2 linked regions of the Homo sapiens genome follow. The protein of the gene in region 1 binds, or shares a complex with, the protein of each later gene. Each region holds a gene or a part of one and is shown on either strand. Other genes may lie near its edges. The genes, in order: RASSF5 and STK3. A codon is read from its position in the direction of its gene.

Region 1 (8,549 bases):
CACGAACAAGCTTGGGCTTGAACCGACCCAAGAGGGACTTGGGAAGGCAGAGGATAGCAAAGAAATGGTTTCTCAGAGGCTGGGTTGGAAAACCAGCCCTGCTTTGAAAATTACAAGTCCTTCTCCCTCTGCACTGGAGTGTCTCTGCAGTCCTGGCTACTTGTTGGAATTTTTTGACTAATTTATTTTAGGATTCAGCCTAAACAAGAAGCCAGTGCAAATGTAAGTCAGGAATTTGATCCTCCCTGTCAATGTGGTCTGGTATCACTGATTGGAGTCAAAACTCAGGCACCCAGATGGGAGGGAGGTCTGTGACCCTCAACCCATACTGAACGCGGGCTCTCCTGGCCTTGTCTCCCACACCGCCGCCATTGTTCACTTCCTGGCAGGAGAAGCCAGCAGCAGAGCTTCAGGCAAACTCGCCCTACTCCTATTTCTCTCTGAAAACAAAAAGGCACTGAGGTCGACGGGGAGGCCAGGCCCACCGGCTCTCCGAGCGCAGTGCCGGGTCTGGCCCATGCTTCAAAACAGAAAGGACTCCAAGTTGGCCGAATTGGAGGCTCCCCTCTCTGTAATCAAGGCAACTCCTTGGGCAGCACCTGGAGATCCCAGAGTCGCAGTGGGAGGAGGGAGGCAGTGCTGGAGGCCGATGGGGAACCCAAGTAGCCCAGGCCCTCCTCTGCTCTTTAGCTGGGGAAGGCTGAAGACAGCTTGGACACCTTTCTCTGCATTGCTTTTTGGCTTTCTCTTACTGTCTGATTTCCATACTTAGCAGGAGACTTTTTAAATGGTCAATGACTGGCTTCCCTTTGGGGAAACACATGACGATGATGACAACATTAAATTCAAATTTGTAACTTAAAAACGAACAGTTTGTTGACAAAGATGTGACTAAGTACCACACATACGCAGATATATGCCTTTGGGTTTCCATGTGCAATGTGGGCCAGGGCCAGAGCCAGGGCCAGGGCAGGCTGCAGCTTCTCTGGAGATCTCTGAGCCAGCCTCAGCTTTGGTGCTCCTTACCCTGAGCATCTGGGGCCAGTAGCTTTATAAACTTCCCTTAAGTGTGAACAACAGGCACCTTGGGGCCGCGGGAACAGTCCTTTTATGAGCATTACCCTGCTTTCAGGGGCTTAGCTCAGACCTGCAAAAGGAATGTGCTACAACTTTTCACTCATAAATAATGGTCCTGTACGTGGCAAGTAAGAGAACTCAAAGAGGAATCAATGCCAGAGAAAGAACACACAGCTCTAAAACCTTTCTTCCTTCCTTTGCCGGCTGGTGTGAGGTTCCAGTTTGGTGACGAGAGAGGCAACTATTTGGTTGGTGAAAGGCTTGCAGATCGAGAGAGGACGTCAGCTGTTTGTTTCACATGAGTTCTGATCCTTGGCAGAATCTGTGGTGGGGCACAGCCTGGGGGCGGGCACAGCTGAACCCTCGTGCAAACACTTGTCCATGGAAGAGACTTTTGCCACAGCTGGAACTGCTGGGCAGGCACAAATGCACCTGCCAGAGATGTCCTGAGAAAAAGTGTCTGTTGCAAAATAATAATTAATAATACAAATAAATCTGAATGCACCAGGAGGAGAGGAAGCAGGACCGGTTACCCAGGTTTGCCCTGGGATTCTCTTAAGGCCTCCTCCAGTTTCTGCCTAAACTTGTCATACTTCTTTTGCACTTGTTGGATTTTGTCCTGCTCCTCTTTTTCCAGGATTGTTAGGAAGTTCTGAAGTTCAGGGATGGAGAAGGCATCCCACTGTGAGGCGAGAGGGAGATTTGTGGGAAGAAACAGAATAGGAGACAGGTTAGAAGTTGACACGACCTGAGAGACCCTGCTGCCTTCCCCTTCCCAGTTCACATCCGTGATTCACACACAGTTTGCTACTGAACAGACTGAATCAGCGAAGCCTGGGCTTTGCATGCCTGTCATAGCAGCAACAAAATTCCAAATGCTGGCATCTCATGACCAAGAGTTGCCAGTCTATGAACCATGTTTTTATTTTGAAACTCAATAATCTTAAGTTTCTGTGTAGCAGCCGAGATCTTGACAGTGATGCTGGAACCACCCAGCCTCCCAACATGCAGACCCTCAGAAAGCAGGTGGAGGAGTGGAACGTGGACTCAGGAGACCGGGGTTGGGCCTGACTCCACCTCTCCCAGCAGTGTGACCTCGAGCACAGCTTTCCACCCTTCTCAGCCTGTTATCTGCTGGGAAATTGGGGTATCTACCTCCCATGACTGGCAGAGCAGATAATGAGAGCCTGACTGGCCCAGGCCTACCCCTAAAGGACTTGGCCTCTGATGGCAGAAGGCAATTTGGACTTCCATCAGGCTGACCCAAGAGCACAAGCCCTGTGCGGCCAACAATTGAGACTCCTAAGCTCTTTGAGCACAATAGAGTACTAAGGTTTATCTGGTTTGGTCCTCGCTATGGATAAGTGAGAAACCTCAAGTCCACACAGGGAAGGTGGCGTAATCACAATCACAGAGCTCATTGCAGCAGAACTGGAACTAGAGCCCAGGTCTCCACACTTCAAAGTGCCTGAGCTTTCCACAGGGCCAGCAGCATTCAGCTACTGTCCATGGAGTACTTTTTCCAAACATATTCTGCACAGATGCCAATAAAGAAAGCAGATGGGAGCAGAGCGGCCCTTGCTGAAATGGGGAGAAGGGACAGAGTCCCAGCTGCCTTGATCCCTAAATCTCCGCAGTGACTCCCAAAACTCCTTAAAACTCTAGGCCTCCACTGAACACAGTGTGACAAACACTGAGACCTTCCCCTGTTGGTCATTCTCAGGCCATGGGTGGCACCGGCCTGGTTTTACTCCAGTTTATGCCACAAGACTACACACTGGTTAGCTCCCCTTGGGGGATGGAGGTCAAGAAAAGGGAGGACAAATGGCTCAAAAACGTCTATACCCAGTGGAGCCCAGAGATGGAGCTTGGTAGCCCTCGGGCCATTTTGAAGCAAAAACAGCCTGTGCCTGAGCACAGGGAGTTTCTTGGTCCCCCTCCTCCCTGAGTTTTCAGAAATAAAGCACATGAAATCCTTTCTTTCCACAGGCCTTGCCACACACAGGCCCTAATGTGCTACCCCAGGGTGTTCAGAGTCCTGGCTGAAACACTGACCCCCAGGCCCATCACCCACCCCTGCTCACTCTCTCAACAGTCACCTTCCTGCCCGTGCTGCGTGGCTCCCACCTATGTGAGGTAGTTAGGACAACACCCACCTGCACCCACCCAGGGTGCCCTAAGGCCTGGGTTTGCACAATGGGTCCAGACCTACCTCTACCTCTCCAGTTTCATTCTCCTTTAGCACAAAGCTGAGGACCTCCGTGTCAGGCCCAGCAAGCAGGCGCAGGTAGAGGGGGCGGTCAGCAATGGAGAGTTTCTGGAAGAGCACTGCAAACCAAGAGAGGGTGCTGGGAGCTCTTCCCAGAAAAGAAGGGCGGGGCCCAGGCTTGCGGGAAAGGATTGGAAATGCAGAGGTGGGGTACGTACAACTGGAAGTAGACACGGGCCTTTTAATGAAATGAACATGACAGTAATGAACAGGGCAATAACCTTTTATCTTGGGTGTCTGCTCAGAGTTTAAAGCATGATTCCATTCACATCATCTCCTGAAAGATTAGGAATGGTGGGGCAGATTCCTCCCATTGCACAGATCAGGAAATGGGAGCCTAGGGTGTGGTTTTCCTGAAGTCACATGCAGAGTCAGGGACTCTGCTCTTGCCTCCCTGCCCGGATTCCACAGATCTGAACACCACATGGGCAGCTGGACCCCTGGTGCTCAGGAGAAGCCCACAGCTCCCACCCAAGGCCGGCAGGAGTTTTAGTGGGTGGGCTTGGACACAGGTAGGAAGGGAACGGTCTGGTTGGGTTCACTCTTTCTCCTACCTTGTCCGTCCTTGTGTATCCGCTTAAAAAGTGCAAACTTCTGGGGATTGTCCACAACCATGAACTTCTTGAGCAGCCCCTGGATGACCTCACTGACGGTGGTGGTGCTGCTGATGTGCAGCTGCTTGATGGCATCTAGGGGCAGGTAGAAGGATGTCCGCTTGTCCGTGGTAGCCGCCAGGTTCACCTCCTTGATGGCATCATAGATGGACTGGGGCCGGATCCCAGCAGGCACCGTCACAGGCCGCCGGAGTTTCAGATGCACTTTGATGAAACCCGTGTAGGTGCCGTCTTCACTCTGCCAGCGGGGGCATGTCACAGGGGGTCAGGGCCGTCCGCCTTGCATGATCATATCTGCCACTCGGGGCCATTGCCCCAGCAGCACCCACCTGTCTCCTTGAGTTCTTTCCTGCCTCTGCTGACGTGGGAGAGCTGGAGGAAGGAGCAGAGATCCCTTTCCCCATAGTGGGCTGGGAGAAGACCCTCAGGATCCAGCTACCAAAGAGGACCTGTGGGGCTGCAGTGGATTTCCCTCCCAGGAGGCTCAGGCCAGCTCCCTAAACCTCCTGTAACCAGTTGCCTTTGGTGAGTGCCCATTGTAAGAGGCAGGGTGTGGGGTAGCCACTCTAGTTTGTACCTCTGAACCAGGCAGGAAGCAGGAAGGCTCTATAATGAGGGCCTTGGAGAACCAGCCCACTAGATTTCCTCCTGTATCTCTTTACTAAGAAACAGCCTTTAAGACTTAAACCTAGGTGCATTTGTGACTGGATTTTCTGGTGCTCCATCTGGCTGAACCCCAAAGAGCCAGCTGATGCCAGCCACCAGCAGGGGGCAGTGTTTTTCTACCTTCTCCCCTCCCTATTGAAGACAGCCTTTCCCAACTGGGTGCTAAGTTGGGTGCCCTCCCCTCTCTGAGAGAGTATGTCCCTCTCTCACAATCGAAGGGGTAGGAAGGGGAGCAACTAAGTCCCATTGTCCTGGCTCCCTGGAGGCCAAGCAATACTGGGCCCTTGGTCATTACGTACCGTTTAATCACTTAGTTTACACTGAAGCTCAGAGGAGGAGTTAAAAGAGCTTCCCAAAATCACAAGCAAAAAATGAGAGTCAGATCTATTTCCCTAAAGCACATGGAGGCCACTGAGGGCTCTGGCTATCAGCCTTCCAGACCCCGGAGGCCTCTGGAGGCCGGAGGAAAGGGAGGGGACCTGCCAGGGAGTAGCCACAGAATTCAGAGTGAGGGCAGAGGCGCCAAACCCGAAGCGGGTGGTGGAGCAGGGGCCAGGTTGAGGGTGGACGGGCGCTTACCAGTTTCATGCCCAGGCAGTTCTTCTCTCGCGTGTTGTAGCTGTCGATCTTCTGCTTGATCTCCTGCAGTGTGGGCGGGCGCTGTGTCTCCTCCACAGGTTTACAGACATTCTGGAAGAGACACAGAAGTGGAGGTGGATGTGTAGTAGTTCTCAGGGTGAGAAAGGGAACAACCACGCCCTCCCCAAAGCCTCTCTAACCAAGAAGTGAGCATCCAGCCCTGCAGAGTGGAACTAACTGCACGGACTCGGAGTGAGACAATGAGAGGTCAAATTGCAGCTGTGCCAGTGTCTAGCCAGCCCTCCTGGAGAAGTAACTCAGATTTCTCTAAGCCTCAGTCTCCTCATCTGTGAAATGGGAACAATACCTACTGCACAGGCTTGTCTTGAGATTAGTGTGAAAGCGTCTGGCACTCAGGCACTGACTATGAATCTGGTGAATGAGCAGAGCCGCATTTGCTTATGGAAAGCTGCTATGGAAAAGATGCTTCTTTGATGCTATGGGAGATGCAAAGAAATACAAGCCATGGTCTGTCTCCTCAAGGAAGTAACAACACAGCTGGAGGGACAGGCGTCTACCCATGGTGCCAGTATATACTACTGATCGGGAAGACAAGAATTCTCTTAGATCCCAAGGACCAAGGACACATAGAGACCAGTCCAGGCCCCACATCACTTGCCACAGTGCTTTTCACATAGCAAGAAGTAAATATCTATTTGTCAAATGAACGAGTGAACTGGCAGGGATGAAGGGCTGTAGCCCCCTCTACCATAAAAGAGGAGATAAACCGCTACTGGGCACAGGGACACCTAGAATTTACTTAGCACTTCTTCTGTGCCAAGTACTTGGCATACATTATCTCATATGATTCTCACAAACCAGAAGTCTGTAAGATAGTTTATTACCCCATCTTACAGGTGAGACTATTGAGACTAAGAGAAGTTTAGCAACCTGCCTCACACCCTACAGTCAGTATGTACAGAATGAAACAGAAATTCCAGGTCTGTCCCATTGTGTTCCTCCTGTGAGACCATGTGTTCATTCTTCTCATATGTTCCCAGATGCCCTCCTCCTCCCACCCCCTGGGAAGGATAAGTGAACAATGAAATTGAGGAGATTGAGGTCAATGGCCCTCACCTTGTAGAGACAATACAGGGGTGAATTCTGGGGTCGAAGCCACTGTCCCTCAGTCAGTTCTCTGGCTCTCTCTCAAGTTCACTGTTACCCACCTCCCGGTTTTATCTTCACACTGTCCCTGAGTGGCTGGGAGTGTGGGAACTGGTTGGTCAGAACCCACCCAGAATTTGCCTGACGTTCAAGTGTAGCAGACTTGGGGTGGATCAGGATTCTCCTTTGGTAAATGAGGAAACTGAGGCCCAGTGAGGGATGACTCTGACACCATCTGACACTGTCCTGTGGGTGTCTGGGTTTGGCTGGGGAATTTCACAGCTGCCGCGACGTCACATCACCACCCCGCGGAACACAACAGGGCCCCCCCTCCGTGACAGAGCTTTGCCCTACCTTCCTCCCTTCAGCAAGCCATGTGGGAGACACGCCACCCTGAACAACCTGCCATCACTTCCTTCCACTTTCCAATCCCACAGAACCGATGCAATGTCAGGCTCTGGCTGCCAAGAGGAGCTGGCGTGGCTCCAGCCTCCCACCTCCAACCCCTCAGCACAGCTGACATCCTCCTTTCTTTCTTTCCTTCCTTCCTTCCTTTTCTTTCTCTCTCTCTCTCTCCCCCCTCTCTCTCTGTCTCTCTCTCTTTCTTTCTTTCTTTTCTTTCGTCTCCCTCTGTCACCCAGGCTGGAATGCAGTGGCACGATCTTGGCTGACTGCAATCTCTGCCTCCCAGGTTCAAGCAATTCTCCTGCCTCAGCCTCCCAAGTAGCTGGGATTACAGGTGCGCACCACCACACCCAGCTAATTTTTGTATTTTTTAGTAGAGACGGGATTTCACCATATTGGCCAGGCTGATGTCGAACTCCTGACCTCAAATGATCCATCCGCCTTGGCCTCCCAAAGTGCTGGCATTACAGGTGTGAGCCACCGCACCCAGCTTCTGACATCCTCTTTCCATCATGGCATCGTTCCCTGGCCTGTCTGCTCCCGCTGTACTCTCCCCAAGGGGTCCTGACCTATTAATAACAGCCTGTGCTGGGTACTTTCACATACCTTCTCTTACATACTATGTATGTCATTCTTATTTCACAGATAACAAAACTGAGGCTGAGTTTAAGAAACATGCCTGTGGTCCCCTGCTAGTAAGAAGCTAAGTAGGAACTGGAATCAAATCCATCTAAGGCCCATGCTCTTCTCAATTCACCATGTAGCCACCATGGGACGGCATCTTTTGCTGAAGGGGCCGGCCTGCCACACCCATAATGATCACTGAAACTCTGTGCTGCGGGGCTGGGATGAGCAGCTGTTAAACCAAAGCCTGTAAGTTACCTGATCTGTGAAATGTTCATCTAAGATGAGTCTAAGCAGCGGGTCAGGCCCCAGAGGCACCATGTCACCTGTGAAGGTGGGAAGGAAGGACTTCTAACTCAAGTGAGATGCAGCCACCAGGATGCAGGGCCCAGCCTTCTCCTGTGTGCCTTCCCAGGTCTCTGGAACTGAACCTTGATTCTGTTGCAGACCACCCAAGGGCAAGCAGCTCTGGCCATCTCCCACTTGCCGGAGGTGAGTAGCAAGTAGTGTGAGCCTCACAGACTCTCTTCATTCACTGTCAGTCCATTAACCCGGGGACTCTCACAGTGAAGCCTCTCATTTTCCTCATCCCTTCCCTTGGGTAGCTCCCAGAGCTCCCCATCCTCAGTCCTTGCCAGCTGAGCACATGTCTATGGGACCAGATGTGCCTGACCCTGGCCCTACCCCTATACCTTCCCGCTGGGAGCTTCTAATTAGAAAGACCCCGTTGTCTGGTTACTATTATACACTCACTCTGTCTCTGACGCATGTAGGCTATTGCTCCTCAGGAGGTAATAGCTTTCTCATACTTGTCTATAAAAAATAAGTAATGGAAAGAAAATTCTAGAAGCTTCGGAAAGATCTCCTCTCATAGTTTCCAATCAAGCTAGAGCCATTTCCCCGTAAGAAAAGGCAGCTGTGCTGTGGCTTTCAAAGGCTTGATTTTGAATACAGTGAGAAGCAAAGCTGCCTTAGCCTAGGGTTTCTTCTTCCTGTTCCCCTTTCTTCAGCAGATAGACCCATCTATCTCTCCCCTTCCCACCACAAACGCGGGGAAGTGACGCAAGTGGCCACAGGCACCTCTGCCTTCCAGGGCTGACTCAAAAGACAGCAGCCCTGACCTCACCATTCTGAGGCCTGGCCCTCTG
Region 2 (8,549 bases), on another chromosome or scaffold:
ATTCTCCCCATCACTTTCAGGTACACCAATCAGACATAGATTTGGTCTTTTCACCTAGTCCCATATTTCTTGGAGGCTTTGTTCATTTCTTTTTATTCTTTTTTCTCTAAACTTCTCTTCTCACTTCATTTCATTCATTTGATCTTCCATCACTGATACCCTTTCTTCCAGTTGATTGAATCGGCTACTGAGGCTTGTGCATTTGTCACGTAGTTCTCGTGCCTTGGTTTTCAGCTCCATCAGGTCCTTTAAGGACTTCTCTGCATTGGTTATTCTAGTTAGCCATTTGTCTAATTTTTTTTTCAAGGTTTTTAACTTCTTTGCCTGGGTTCGTACTTCTCCTTTAGCTCGGAGTAGTTCGATCATCAGAAGCCTTCTTCTCTCAGCTTGTCAAAGTCACTCTCTGTCTAGCTTTGTTCCATTGCTGGTGAGGAGCTGTGTTCCTTTGGAGGAGGAGAGGCACTCTTATTTTTAGAGTTTCCAGTTTTTCTGCTCTGTTTTTTCTGCATCTTTGTGGTTTTATCTACCTTTGGTCTTTGATGATGGTGATGTACAGATGGGGTTTTGGTGTGGATGTCCTTTCTGTTTGTTAGTTTTCCTTCTGTCAGGACCCTCAGCTGCAGGTCTGTTGGAGTTTGCTGGAGGTCCACTCCAGACTCTGTTTGCCTGGGTATGAGCAATGGAGGCTGCAGAACAGTGGATATTGGTGAACAGCAAATGTTGCTGCCTGATCGTTCCTCTGGAAGTTTTGTCTCAGAGGAGTACCGGGCTGTGTGAGGTGTCAGTCTGCCCCTACTTGGGGCTGCCTCCCAGTTAGGCTACTTGGGGGTCAGTGACCCACTTGAGGAGGCAGTCTGTCTGTTCTCAGATCTCCAGCTGTGTGCTGGGAGAACCACTACTCTCTTCAAAGATGTCAGACAGGGACATTTAAGTCTGCAGACGTTTCTGCTGCCTTGTTTGGCTATGCCCTGCCCCCAGAGGTGGAGTCTACAGAGGTAGGCCAGCCTCCTTGAGCTGTGGTGGGCTGCACCCAGTTTGAGCTTCCTGGCTGCTTTGTTTACCTACTCAAGCCTGGGCAATGGCAGGCGCCCCTCCCCCAGCCTCGCTGCCGCATTGCAGTTTGATCTCACACTGTTGTGCTAGCAGTGAGCGAGGCTCCATGGGTGTAGGACCCTCCAAGCCAGGCGCGGGATATAATCTCCTGGTGTGCCGTTTGCTAAGACCATTGGAAAAGCACAGTATTAGGGTGGGAGTGACCTGATTTTCCAGGTGCCATCTGTCACCCCTTTCTTTGACTAGGAAAGGGAATTCCCTGACCCCTTGCACTTCCCAGGTGAGGTGATGCCCCGCCCTGCTTCAGCTCATGCTCAGTGCACTGTACCCACTGTCTTGCACCCACTTTCCGATACTCCCCAGTGAGATGAATCTGGTACCTCAGTTGGAAATGCAGAAATCATGTGTCTTCTGCAATGCTCACGCTGGGAGCTTTAGACTGGAGCTGTTCCTATTCAGCCGTCTTGTCTCCATCCCTATTTATTAGTTCTAATAGGTTTTTTTTGTGGAATCTTTAGAATTTTCTACATATATGATCATATCATCTGTGAACAGAGATAATTTTACTTCTTTTTTTCCAGTTTGGATGCCTTTATTTGTTTTTCTTCCCTAATTGCTCTGTCTAGAACCTCCAGTACTATATGTAACAGAAGTATTAGGCTGGTGCAAAAGTAATTTCGGTTTTTGCCATTACTTTAAAAAAAAAATGGCAAAAACTGCGATTACTTTTGCACCAACCTAATAGCATCCTTTCATTGTTCCTGATCTTTGTGGAAAAGCTTTCAGTCTTACTGCTTTGAGTATGACATTTACTTTGGGTTTTTTGTATATGGCTTTTACTATGGTGAGATAGTTTCCTTCTATTCATATTAGTTGTGTGTTTTATGAAAAGAAGTTAAATTTAATCAAATGCTTTTTCTGTTTTCATTTGAAATGATCATGTGGTTTCTTCTCCATTCTGTTAAGGTGGTGTATTGCATTGTTCGATTTTGTATGTTGAATCAACCTTGCATTCCAGGAATACATTCCAGTTGGTCATAGTGTATAACCTGTTACAATCCTGTTGAAGTGAGTGTGCTATATTTTGTTGAGGATTTTTGTATCAATGTTCATAAGGGATATTGGTCTTAGTTGTTTTGTGGTAACTTTGTCTGGCTTTGATATCAGAATAATGCCTCTTAAAATGAGTGTGGAAGTGTTCTCTTTTCTTCAGTGTTTTAGAAAATTTGAGAAGTTGAATCAAGATATTTTAATCTTTTTTTTTCCTTTTTGTGGAGTGTATGTTCCCAGATAGCCATTCACATGGTTGGCCCCATTATATCATTTAGACTTCAGTAAAATGTCTTTTGGGCCTTCTTGAATGTCAATCTAAAGTAGCTTCTCAGTCGTTCTCTATCAGTAGCTCTCTATTGTTGTCCTCATAGCAATTTTCACAGACATTTTCCTGTGTTATCCTATTTTCTATCAAATTATCCCGTTGCTTATAGATAGAATATAAGCTTGAGAGCAGTCCCTAATCATTTAGAATTTTTATGGTTGATTCTGTTACATAGGCATGATTGATTAAGTCTTTGGACATTTGTGCTTAACTAAATCTCTACCCCCTCTCTCCTTGCAGCCCTCCCGTAAGTCAGGGGTCAGGCAGAAATTTCCAAACATCTAATCACTTGGTTGGTTTTTTCGGCAACCAGCTCCCATCCTGAAGCTATCTAGGCTCCCACCAAGAGTCACCTGATCAGTATAAATTCTGGTATGGTTGAAAGGAGCTTATTATGAATGACAAAAGACAGCCCCTCTCACTCTTGTGAGAGGGTGAGAAAACAAAGATAAAATATCTTGATTCAACTTCTCACTCACTCAGTCAATTCACAGGGTCTTAGGAGATTTTGTGCCAAGAACCTACAAAGACCAAATATTTCCTGTGATTTCATAATATCACACTACCTTACAAGGTTGTTTTAAGAATAAATGAGAGAATGCATGCATAACTCTTAGCACATTGCCTGGTACAGATAGCAGTGGCTCTACTGCTACAACTGTTAAGAAGATTTTCTTTCTTTCCCATCCGTCTCTTCCTCGGCCTTCTCTACTCTCCCCTTTTTCCCTCCTCTGATAGTCTTTGCTTGTGTTTCCATTTTCCTAATCTTTCTCTGACGTTTTTTCTTCTGAGTTCTCAATATTAGGTCAGAAGTCCAGAACTTGGAAGGGTTAGGAGTGGCATTGGTGTAGGAGCTTCTCGCAGAAGATTCATTGCAAGCCTCCCTCCCTCATTTACTTTCCTTTATGTAAAGCTGTTGGTTTCATTTTCATCAAGAATCTGAAATATCTCAGGGGAAGTATCTGAATTTACTTTTTCAGAACAGATATTAGCTGTGATAGTGCCCTCCCAGTATTAGAAGATGTGGGAAATCACTATTATGATTCCTTATATCAGGCTGATTCTTGAGATATGTTGTTTGCTTTAGGAATGATACTGATAATTTTTTTTTTTTTTTGAGATGGAGTCTCGCTGTGTCGCCCAGGCTGGCATGCAGTGATGTGATCTCAGCTCACTGCAACCTCTGCCTCCCAGGTTCAAGTGACTCTCCTGCCTCAGCCTCCTGAGTAGCTGGGATTACAAGTGCACGCCATCACGCCTGGCTAATTTTTGTATTTTTAGTAGAGACGAGGTTTCACCATGTGGGCCAGGCTGGTTTTGAACTCCTGACCTCAAGTGATCTGCTCGCCTCAGCCTCCCAAAGTGCTGGGATTACAGGTGTGAGCCACCACGCCCTGCTGATACTGATAATCTTAAAGAGAGAAATTTGATCATCCTTTCATTAGTAAAATGTGTAATAAGAAAGCTTATTGTGGGAAGAAGAGGTTCTCGATTATTTACCCCTTTAGCATTTTCCTGGAGGTTTAGCGGTCATTAGAAAGAAGTACTTGTGGCTAGGCATGGTGGCTCACACCTATAATCCCAACACTTTGGGAAGCTGAGGAAGGAGAATTGTTTGAAGCAAAGAGTTCAAGACCAGCCCGGGCAACATAGCGAGATCCCCATCTCTACAAAAATAAAAATAAGTTAGCCTATTGGGTTGGCATGTGCCTGTAGTTCTAGCTACTCGGGAAGCTGAGGTGGGAGCATGCCTTGAGCCCAGGAATTTTAGGCTGCAGTGAGCTATCATCACACCACTGCACTGTAGCCTGGGCAACAGAGTGGGGTCTCTTAAAAAAAAACACACACACACACACGGAAAGACATACTTGTTACTAGTGCTCTTTCGTAAGATTTTATCTAACGTGGCATTTTAATTATGGTTTTAAAAATATTTCTTTCCAGTTAATAGAAGATGAAATTGCAACCATTCTTAAATCTACATTGAAAGGACTAGAATATTTGCACTTTATGAGAAAAATACACAGAGATATAAAAGCTGGAAATATTCTCCTCAATACAGAAGGACATGCAAAATTGGCAGATTTTGGAGTGGCTGGTCAGTTAACAGTAAGTTAACTTTAATGGTTTTCTAAACACTTGGCTAATTTGTTCAGATTTGATTATAACTAAACTTCAATTACTTTTTGAGGGGGAATGGAAAGAAATGTGTAGTTTTTTAATTTTTGTGGAGAAGGAACCATAATTGAGCCAAATTTGAGTATTATTTAATTTATAATTTAGGGTGATTGAATGTGAAAATATATCTTATAATCAAAATGCTTAAATGTTCTAAAAGGGAAGCTACGTAGCTCATTTCTGTAGCTTTTATCATTGTAGCACTATCTTTAATGACTGTGTTTAATGATGGTAGTGTGGATAAGTTACCTGTGGACTCTTGGTTATTTTCAGAATTCGGAATTCCTAAGTATGTCATAACTAGTTGAAATTTTAGCAAAATAGTCAATTTCTGATATAATCTGTGGCATTGGAGGTTTTAACATTTTTTAAAAGTATGTTTGGCATACAGATTTCCTTTGTGCTTTTGTAGTAGCATTTATGGCTATGTAACATTATTGCAGGATACAATGGCAAAACGCAATACTGTAATAGGAACTCCATTTTGGATGGCTCCTGAGGTGATTCAAGAAATAGGCTATAACTGTGTGGCCGACATCTGGTCCCTTGGCATTACTTCTATAGAAATGGCTGAAGGAAAACCTCCTTATGCTGATATACATCCAATGAGGGTAAGAAAATTATGGTTTGCTGAAAATGTTAGCCTTATATAAGTGTTGCCGTTTTGTAATGTCAATGTAAGTAAATATAAACTAAATAAGTTCATTTAAATGTATTCTTTTTAAAAATGGTAAAATTACCTCTTAAAGATTAGTAACTGTTAACTTCTCTTCCTTCTGCATTCTTAATTGTGAGAAAAGAACTGAAGGCTTTGTATATCTCTACCATCACTGTTCTCCTCCCCCAAAAATATACTTGTAAAATTTTTGCTTGCTTTTCAATAGAAGAAAGGGTTGGTAAATCCTCTTTGCTCTTCAGTTTATTGTTTTCTTGATTGTGGTAGTGAAAGAGTTGGAAGTAATCATTTCTCACTTTTTTACCCACTCTGTGATTTATACCTTACTGTGTGTTTTTTTTTTTCTGCCTTTTCTCTTCTTTGGTCTGAGGATGGTATTAAGCAATCCTAATTTCTAATATTACTATGCACATATAAAGGAATTCGGCTAATTTTTTTTAATGAATGCATGCTGAGAAAATGGAATTCCTTTTTTGAACATCATTATATGCTTCTGTGAACTCTGCAGGATAATTTTTGAGTTTGAAATATATATTTTGCATATTCAAGTCTAATTGCCTGTGTTTCAGGGTTTGTGATGATATACTTTTTAGGTTTATTACTATGTGAATCATATAGATAAGTTCATCATCATAAATAGGTACACTGATCTTTGTATACTTATTGCCCTCTAGTGGCTGTAGTTATCTCAATAAGGATGTAGGAATGAGGGGAGGAGTGTATGTATGTGTGTATTTGTAGAAAAGAGAAGATAATATCATGGTGGCTGGAGGAATGTGAAGTAAATAGATAGAAAGAGGAAGAATGCATAAAAATTCAGATATTTTAGAATATCTGAAGAAGAATAAATTGGAATTACATCTGATATTATAATGCCATTGTGGGTTAAATTTCGATAATATAGGTAACAGTGTATTATACAGAAAATATTTAAAAATCTGTCTGCTGTATTGAAACATTTTAAAGAGAGTTTTTTTTTTTTTTCTTTTGAGATAAGGTCTCACTCTGTCACCCAGCCTGGATTGTAGTAGTGCGATCATGGCTCACTCGAGCCTCGACCTCCTGGGCTCAGGTGATCCTCCCACCTCAGCCTGCAGAGTAGCTGGGACTATAGGTATGCACCACCATGCCCAACTAATTTTTTGTAGAGACAAGGTGTCGCCATGTTGCCCAGGCTGGTCTCCAACTTCTGGGCTCAAGCGATCCGCCCACCTCAGCTTCCCAAAGTGCTGGGATTACAGCAGTGTGCCCAGCCTAGAGTTCTTTGAGTAATGTAATTGTATACAATATGTATCATCTTCCTGGTGTATATAAATTCCTTTTGGTAAATGAAAGATAAAAATGCATCAATTGTTTGAAAATAACTTGAAAAACAACAAGGTCAGCATAAAAACAGGAACACAAAGTCTTATTTCATCTCTGATCATTAGTTATCTGTGGTTCTTTTAGTTAGGATGTTTGTAGGGTGATCCTCAAAGTAGGTGTATTTGAGTTTGAATCAGTGAGGTTTACTAAATTACCCAAGGCAACCTAGGTAAGTACAAGAGCTGGGATTTAACTTAGGACTTCCATTATTACTATTCTGCTTCTTCCCTGTGTAAATCTTATTTTTCCAACCAAATAGTTCAACATGTTAAATTTGATCCTGTGCTCAGATAGCAGAGAATTGTAATATGTGGCCTCTTCCTTTAAGGATCTTCTAATATTACCTGAGAGTTTGAATGAATACATTATACATTATTAAAAATATACCTGAAAATAATATTTCTTTTAGAAAAAAATATACCTGTATTGCAAACTTCCTAGGATGCCTTGCTCACTGTTTTTTTTTTTTTAAATCTAAATCCTACCAGTTTTTCAAGTCCCAACTTGGATTTTATGCCTGTGTAGAGCCATTCTTGACAGCTATCGCCCAAGTAAATTTCTCTTTTTCCTCATATTTTGTATATAGGCAATTTCTTCACAGTCCAGTTCTTTGGACAGTTAATCAAGTGTTGCCTCGTGCATTTCCAAACATAATATAGTTTATTTCCTATTTAAATAATATCATTATTTAACTTTTCTTGTGTTTGTGAGCTGTCTTACAAAGTAGAGTATTGAACTGCAAGTATTGGAAGCTGTTGAGATCATGTAACAGATAGTTTTATCACTGGTAACAAGTACTGCCTTTTGTTTTCCTTGAAATGACAGGTTCACTTGGTTCCTTTTTGAGAAAATGTCTGTCAAATACCCAAGTCTGTGTAACCTTAGTTTTCTGTTAGTTATTCTTCAAGTAAAAATGATGTTCTTTGAAAAGAGCCTTGTAGTTTATTTAGCTTGCAGCTCAGTCACACAACTGCTTTTTTTCAGATTATTGTTGTTCTTTGATATGTGGGGAAGTGCTTTATGCATATTTTCCATTTTGTCAATGTAGAATATTAAAAATACATATTCAAGTGTAGAAATTTAATAGAATTAATAAACTTTACTGTTTCATCAAGGTTTACAGTAGTTTTGTGGGGGGTATAGTGAGGGCAATGAAAGAAAGAGCTGTCCAAGAGAGAAAAATTGTTGAGGGCCCAGCTAAAATTGGTAATTGGGAAAGTATAGTGTAATTAATCCTGGTTTGTGGGCCTTCCTATGGTAGTGTGCTCTGCTGTGCAGTAGAATGCATTATGGCCTTGATATGGAGGGTTTGGGTTTTAATGAATGAGTGTCTTAGAAGGATGGGGCTATAGGGAATTTAAGGATGCTGCTGAGAGACAGTTCAAGGGGTTACTAACAGGGCACAGTCTGGAAAGAAAAGAGAGAGTGTAAGGAAATGGGGTGATCAAAGAATAGGTAGTGTTCTCCATGCTTGCTGCATAGCCGTCATGTGGGGAGCCCTACCCTAAACAGATTAAATCAGAATCTCAGGAGGTTAGAGAGGAGATAAAGTGGTAGTTAAGATATGAGAAAGCTGGTAGGATATGACACTATGGTAAGTGAGTGAAATATTGAAGTTTTTTACCAACATTTTTTTTTGTACTGTAGTAATTTTGTGAAATAAATATTTTATCCTCCATTGGGTGGATTGGATGAAATGGATAAGATTATGTTATTTAAGATGACATAACTTGTCAGTGGCAGAACTGAGATATGAACTCAGTTTGTTCTGTGTTTTTGCCTAGACACCAAAGAAATATCCTCTGTGTTAATATCCCAACTCAGTGCAAGTGGAGGAGCGGCTAACAAAAATAAGACATTTTAAAACCATGTAATCACAATATTATAATTACTGATTTA

The links.
Region 2: the proteins of RASSF5 (region 1) and STK3 are in contact, whole or in part, in a crystal structure (PDB 4LGD), measured with the Homo sapiens proteins. Residues at the interface, in NP_872604.1 of Homo sapiens: Trp369 (codon at 1,759), Asp370 (codon at 1,756), Ala371 (codon at 1,753), Phe372 (codon at 1,750), Ile374 (codon at 1,744), Leu377 (codon at 1,735), Gln378 (codon at 1,732), Phe380 (codon at 1,726), Leu381 (codon at 1,723), Leu384 (codon at 1,714), Glu385 (codon at 1,711), Glu387 (codon at 1,705), Glu388 (codon at 1,702), Lys391 (codon at 1,693), Ile392 (codon at 1,690), Val395 (codon at 1,681), Gln396 (codon at 1,678), Lys398 (codon at 1,672), Tyr399 (codon at 1,669), Phe402 (codon at 1,660), Arg403 (codon at 1,657), Lys405 (codon at 1,651), Leu406 (codon at 1,648), Ala409 (codon at 1,639), Leu410 (codon at 1,636), Ser413 (codon at 1,627); in NP_006272.2 of Homo sapiens: Phe437, Phe439, Leu440, Leu445, Leu448, Gln449, Arg451, Leu452, Leu455, Asp456, Met458, Met459, Glu462, Ile463, Leu466, Arg467, Tyr470, Lys473, Arg474, Pro476, Ile477, Leu478, Ala480, Met481, Lys484, Gln488.

Annotation. Positions count from the first base shown.
Region 1 is NC_000001.11:206,580,036-206,588,584, reverse strand, and holds part of RASSF5 (ras association domain-containing protein 5), read right to left. Parts: exon of another isoform or gene 7,485-8,549; coding exon of another isoform or gene 7,423-7,484; intron 5,317-7,422; coding exon 5,206-5,316; intron 4,199-5,205; coding exon 3,901-4,198; intron 3,406-3,900; coding exon 3,290-3,405; intron 1,760-3,289; coding exon 1,607-1,759; 3' UTR 1-1,606. UniProt on the Homo sapiens protein: Potential tumor suppressor. Seems to be involved in lymphocyte adhesion by linking RAP1A activation upon T-cell receptor or chemokine stimulation to integrin activation.
Region 2 is NC_000008.11:98,703,138-98,711,686, reverse strand, and holds part of STK3 (serine/threonine-protein kinase 3), read left to right. Parts: intron 1-4,375; coding exon 4,376-4,540; intron 4,541-5,052; coding exon 5,053-5,220; intron 5,221-8,549. UniProt on the Homo sapiens protein: Stress-activated, pro-apoptotic kinase which, following caspase-cleavage, enters the nucleus and induces chromatin condensation followed by internucleosomal DNA fragmentation.